Regions from separate parts of the Homo sapiens genome. Here region 1 is linked to region 2. A link means that fine-mapping ties the variant in region 2 to the expression of a gene that starts in the linked region. Tissue or cell type: minor salivary gland. Region 2 holds a variant in brackets; the other region holds the start of a gene. All regions are shown on one strand. Distances are between the middles of the regions.

Evidence for each region. PIP is the estimated chance that this variant, and not a neighbour inherited with it, causes the effect.
Region 1: it holds the start of TSPAN8, and the variant in region 2 is fine-mapped to the expression of TSPAN8 in minor salivary gland (GTEx, PIP above 0.99).

What each region holds. Positions count from the first base shown.
Region 1 is chr12:71,156,678-71,159,366 of GRCh38, reverse strand. TSPAN8 (tetraspanin 8) reads left to right here and starts at 1,368. Exons shown (of 9, transcript NM_004616.3): 1 at 1,368-1,437; 2 at 1,580-1,748. The coding sequence starts at 1,689.
Region 2 is chr12:70,885,776-70,888,464 of GRCh38, reverse strand. The region is part of intron 2 of PTPRR (protein tyrosine phosphatase receptor type R); the gene reads left to right. Among named protein-coding and RNA genes, the nearest start is that of PTPRR, 34 kb to the left of the region's middle. The variant T/C (reference allele first, on the strand shown) is at 1,537.

The sequences.
Region 1 (2,689 bases), 270 kb before region 2:
TACATTCTTTTCAACAAAGCAGCATTTAAATCTGTAATTTTTTTTTAATTTTAGCCTCTGATAAATAATCATTTCTGGGACTATGAATCAATTTTGGTTTTCATTCAATCTGAAATTATTCTTTCAGCCTTGGATTATTCTATATACAAAATATCTCAATAGAAGGTTGTGAAACTATCCATTTTCTAGTAGGAAAGAGAACACAAACAATTTTAGTGATGATTTATATATTAAGCCATTATTTTTGGAATTAATCCTAAATTTGGCCTTTAACGCTATATATTATTGTTGATAATGCATTAAAATATATTGTATTTGTAGTCAGGGAGTAGAATTGTTTCAAAAACATTGTATGCCAGTGAAAATTAGAAATAATATTTTTCTTTTGTAAGGAGTTCATGCTTGCTTATCGTGTAAAACTTAGCAAAGATTCTAAAGAATAATTTTCTCAACAACCTTTTAAAGTAGAGGGTTCTTTTATTTAGGGGGAGAAGAACTCCCTTTGAGAGGCAGGATGTGGAAACTAACATGACCCAGGCTGTTTACACAAAGCAGTCCACACCTCCCTGATGATGTCGGAGCATTTTGCCTTTACCTGAGACAGCTGCCTTCTATTAGCACTAGAAACAAATAGTAAAATCTATGGTCACTGATCCATGACCACCTTCCCATTTTGAATTTTTTTGTCCGGGAGGACCTGGAATCCAGAAACTGAGTTGGTGGAGAACAGCTGTTGCTAGATACAATTTATCAGAGGAAGGAAATTACAGTGTCCACCTTAAAAACAAACCAAGCTATCAGAATGACTACGCATTATAAAATGAAAACAATGTTGCAGTCAGTGCCACTTTATGATTTCTTTCCCTTTGTATCATAAAGAAATAAAGATAAAAAGCAAATGGTCTTATCATGATAGGCAAGGCTGCCTCTCCCTCTGCAATTTCTGTGGTGTATTTACGGCAGCTCTGGAATTCTTTTGAAATAAATTTAGATGTTTTGGAGGGCAGATACATGTAATGGTTATTTTACTATTCTAGGTTTAATGATAACAGGTTGCTATGTCTAAGCTTTGATATTTTGCAGATTTCTAAATGCATTTTATTGCATTTAGAAGGAATTTTGTAGTATTGAGAAAATGCAATGCAAAAATGAGTAGAGATACAATGTCCATTTAACTCAGAACAAAACAACCTTATTTCCCCATAGTTGAAATGGAGGGCGGGGAAGTCAGGCAGTGGTTTCTGAAAGCCAAGAACTTAGTAGCACTGTGCCATTCTCTTGCCTGATCCAGTGCCATTCCCTTCACTTGATATCTGTTTACTTTAGAGGAGGCAGTTTTTGAGAAAGGATCATAAATATCCTGGCCCAGTGCCCCAGGAGCTATGACAAGCAAAGGAACATACTTGCCTGGAGATAGCCTTTGCGATATTTAAATGTGTGAGTTAATAGCCTTTGAGATATTTAAATGTGTGGGTTAATAGCCTTTGCGATATTTAAATGTGTGGGTTAATTTTTTTATCCAGTTTAATAACTTTTTATTCCTCCCTCTACTTCTTTGCTTTCTCTTTCTGCTCTGAAGCCGTGGATACAGAAATCTCTGCAGGCAAGTTGCTCCAGAGCATATTGCAGGACAAGCCTGTAACGAATAGTTAAATTCACGGCATCTGGATTCCTAATCCTTTTCCGAAATGGCAGGTGTGAGTGCCTGTATAAAATATTCTATGTTTACCTTCAACTTCTTGTTCTGGGTAAGTGTTTTCCTTTTAATTATCAATTTTATGCAAGAAAGGGGATCTTGATATAAATATCATAAACAAGAACAGACTGTACACTAGAGAAATAAGAGAAGGGGGAAAATGTATTTTCCATGTACTTGTTTGGATTTGTTTGTTCTTTCTTTGGTTATTTCAGTAATTGAAAATGAGCCAAGGACTCAAAAAAGTGCACTTCAGAATGTGAGGATAAACATTTCATAAATGTTTTCATATTGCTGCAAAAAAAAATCACAGAGGAACACAAATGCCCCTTAATTAAAGGACAATTTTCCTTAGTTGTATATCAAGCAGGCCTCCCTAATTTAAGGACTCTGTGGTAAAAACATGGTCTGATTCCATCCGGAGCCCGGGTCCTGATTCCCGCCCTTCACTTCTGGGTTTGAACAGGTGAATCGCAGGGTGTGGGACAATAAAGATCATTTTCAGAGCCTCAAAGACAAAAAAAATGGGTCATGAAAAACTTGAGGGGGAAATGATAAAATTCCTAAATCATAAGAAAATCAAACTAAGACCGTGGATATATATATGTATTGGCATTTTAAAGTCAGTATTTTGATGTGTCATCACCCTACCTTTTAATTGACAGGATTTGTATTTTAGCAATTTGTTATGTTTCTCTTGAAAGTCCATTGACATAGACATAACCAACAAATTGATAACTGATATCTATCAATAGATAATGGAAAAACAAGGTATGAAAAGAGCAGGCTGGGATGTTGGGACATTGACCTTATCATTTTTAGCATATATGGTACAATTAAAGATTGTTTAAATGTCAATCAGTGGAAATAGCACAAAGTATTTAAATGAAAAAAGTATTTTGTATACTGGATTAAAAGCTACCTTATCCACTCCAAGGATGAAAGAACTCTGGTTTTGTTTTTGTACCTGATCTTTAGTAAACAGACATCTCA
Region 2 (2,689 bases):
CTACTGAAAGTACATGCATGCAAATTTACAAATGGAAAAGTAGAAATCATAGAGCAATCTGAGTCCATATGAGAAATTAAAGAATGATAAGGGAGGCATCACAAGTGAGTGGGAAAATATTATTGACCATGTGAGACTGGAACAATTGAATAGCTTTTTTTCAAAAGATATCATGATAGTGATAAGTAAATTATTTTTTGCTAAGCATAAAACATTGATAGTATGCTAAGAACTATGCGAGTATTATCTCATATAATTGTTACAGCAAGCCTGTGGCAACAACAAAACTATTATCTCTGATTTTTTGCTTTTCTTTCTCTAATAAATTATTGGAACATGCTGCTAACTAGTCACTGTATCCACTCTTTCCCATTTTTGTTATGGTGATCTGCAGAAAGTTTGAATCAGATCATATCACACCACACACACACACCCACACACACACATACACACATTCACGACTGCCTTCTTATTGCCATTGAACTAAAATTCAAACATTTTCCCATGGCCTATATCCTACATCACCTGGGATCCAAGATTCCCAGAACTCTTGCCTAAGGATTCTGATTCCATAGTTCTAGGATGGATCCTAGGAATCAATGCATTCAGGAAGCATTCTGGAGGATACTTGGGTTTTCAGAGGTTTGGGAAGCATAGCACACCACCTGGCCTATCCCTGTGTCTCTGAGTCCATCTCCTACCACTCCACCTCTCCTTGACTCCCTGCAAACTGCTCTGGCCTTCTCTCTTCCTCAGGACAGTGAGCCTATTCCTGCCTGAATCAGGAATTTTACTCTTGCTGTTCTACCTAGAATAATATACTTCCTGCAAATCTTGTGTCTAGCACATAATGAAGGCTCATTAATTATTTTTAAATTAATAAATAAATGTCAAATAACAGAATGCAGTTGTTTTGGACACTGAGATGATGAAAGATTTCTTATTGCATTTTTTTACTTCAACCTGCAGTAAATTTCCTACTTTTTTCTTCACCTTATTACTTAATTTTTTTTTGGAAAGAGTCTCGCTCTGTTGCCCAGGCCACGGTGCAGTGGTGCGATCTTGGCTGACTGCAACCTTCGCCTCCTGGGTTCAAGCAATTCTCCTGCCTCAGCCTCTCAAGTAGCTGGGACGATAGGCACGGACCACCACGCCCAGCTAAATTTTTTGTATTTTTAGTAGAGGCGGGGTTTCACCATGTTGGCCCAGCTGGTCTCAAACTCCTGACCTCAAGTGATCTACCTGCCTCAGCCTCCCAAAGTGCTGGGATTACAGGCATGAGCCACTGAGCCTGGCCCCTACTTAAATTTTTAACAGACAGCTTGGATAGTTTTCAGGAACAAATTTCAAAAGTAGAAATGTAAAACCAAAAAGAAAATAAACATTGGGAACATACGCCATCACTGAAAGAAGGAGGGCACTGTCTTACACCTAGCCAGGGTGACACTGTTTAAAACTACAGCTTCCAAAGACATTTATGTCCACCTGCCTACATTATTTTTCTTCTTAGTACTTATGAAGCACTTCTAGCTAATA[T/C]CTTTTATGTCTCTTTCTTCCCGAGTTATAATGTATGTTCCACAATGTTGAGATTTTTTTATTTTGTTCCTGCTGTATTTCCAGTGACCACAATGATATAGGGGCTCATAACTATTTATTTGATGAAAGAATGAGTTGATGCCAAAAGAAACACAATTCAAAAGCTTGTAATTAAATAAATAGTACATCTCATTATCAAGAAAATATGATTGAATATGCAATTTTAACACTTAATTACCCATTATATGATCTCGTTTTACATTTTCTCTCCCCACCTAGAGTAGAAATTCCATTAAAAATATACTTGTTTTGTATCTATAACCTTTCAATAGCAAATGCAAAATAGCTAGTCAATGAATATTGATGATTGCTTAATCTATTCCCAGGATTCAAAATCATTTGAGTTGACTTAAAGGATCCATAATAGCCATTTCACAGATACTAATAAAAAATAAAATACAGCTTTCAGTTAGATTTTATTTTTAAGAAAGCCTAGAAAAAGAAATTCAATGATCTACTCCAGAAGTTTGGTTGAACTTTTGTTCTGCTCTTAACTTAATGTTAATGCTTCCTATTAAATTATAAGATCTTCTTATATAATCACCTTCTTATATAATCGCCAGACTAGCATTGCAGAAAGCTTTATGCTCAGATTTCCCCAGCTATTACTGTATCCTTGCAAAATAGTCCTGAAGTAGAAATTCCGTTCTTGAGCTTGGCATCCTGACAGTCATAACTGTCACCATCTGTTGCTTTTCACCATTTCTAGCTATTAAAGCAGCAAGGACGATGCTGGAATGCACTCTGGAAAAGCTAGAGGCTAAGCCTCAGCAATGTCTGTGTGAGGTTACAACCCTGGACCACTCAGTGCATCTGCTTGTTTGGGATCATACACATTCACTATTAGGATGACTCAAGTCTTAAGAGAGCTGGTTTAATTGATTGTCATTAGGCCTTGCTCTCCAGGTGCAGTGAATGAGCAGGGAATAACTTAGTAATATTTTTGTTCTAATTCCAAAAATTATGCATTTTCATACAGTTGTAGAATATTTAGAAAGTTTAGATAAGGAAAAGCGGAAATAAAAACCATCCATAACCAGCCAGGCGTGGTGGCTCAGCGTGTAATTCCAACACTTTGGGAGGCCAAGGCTGG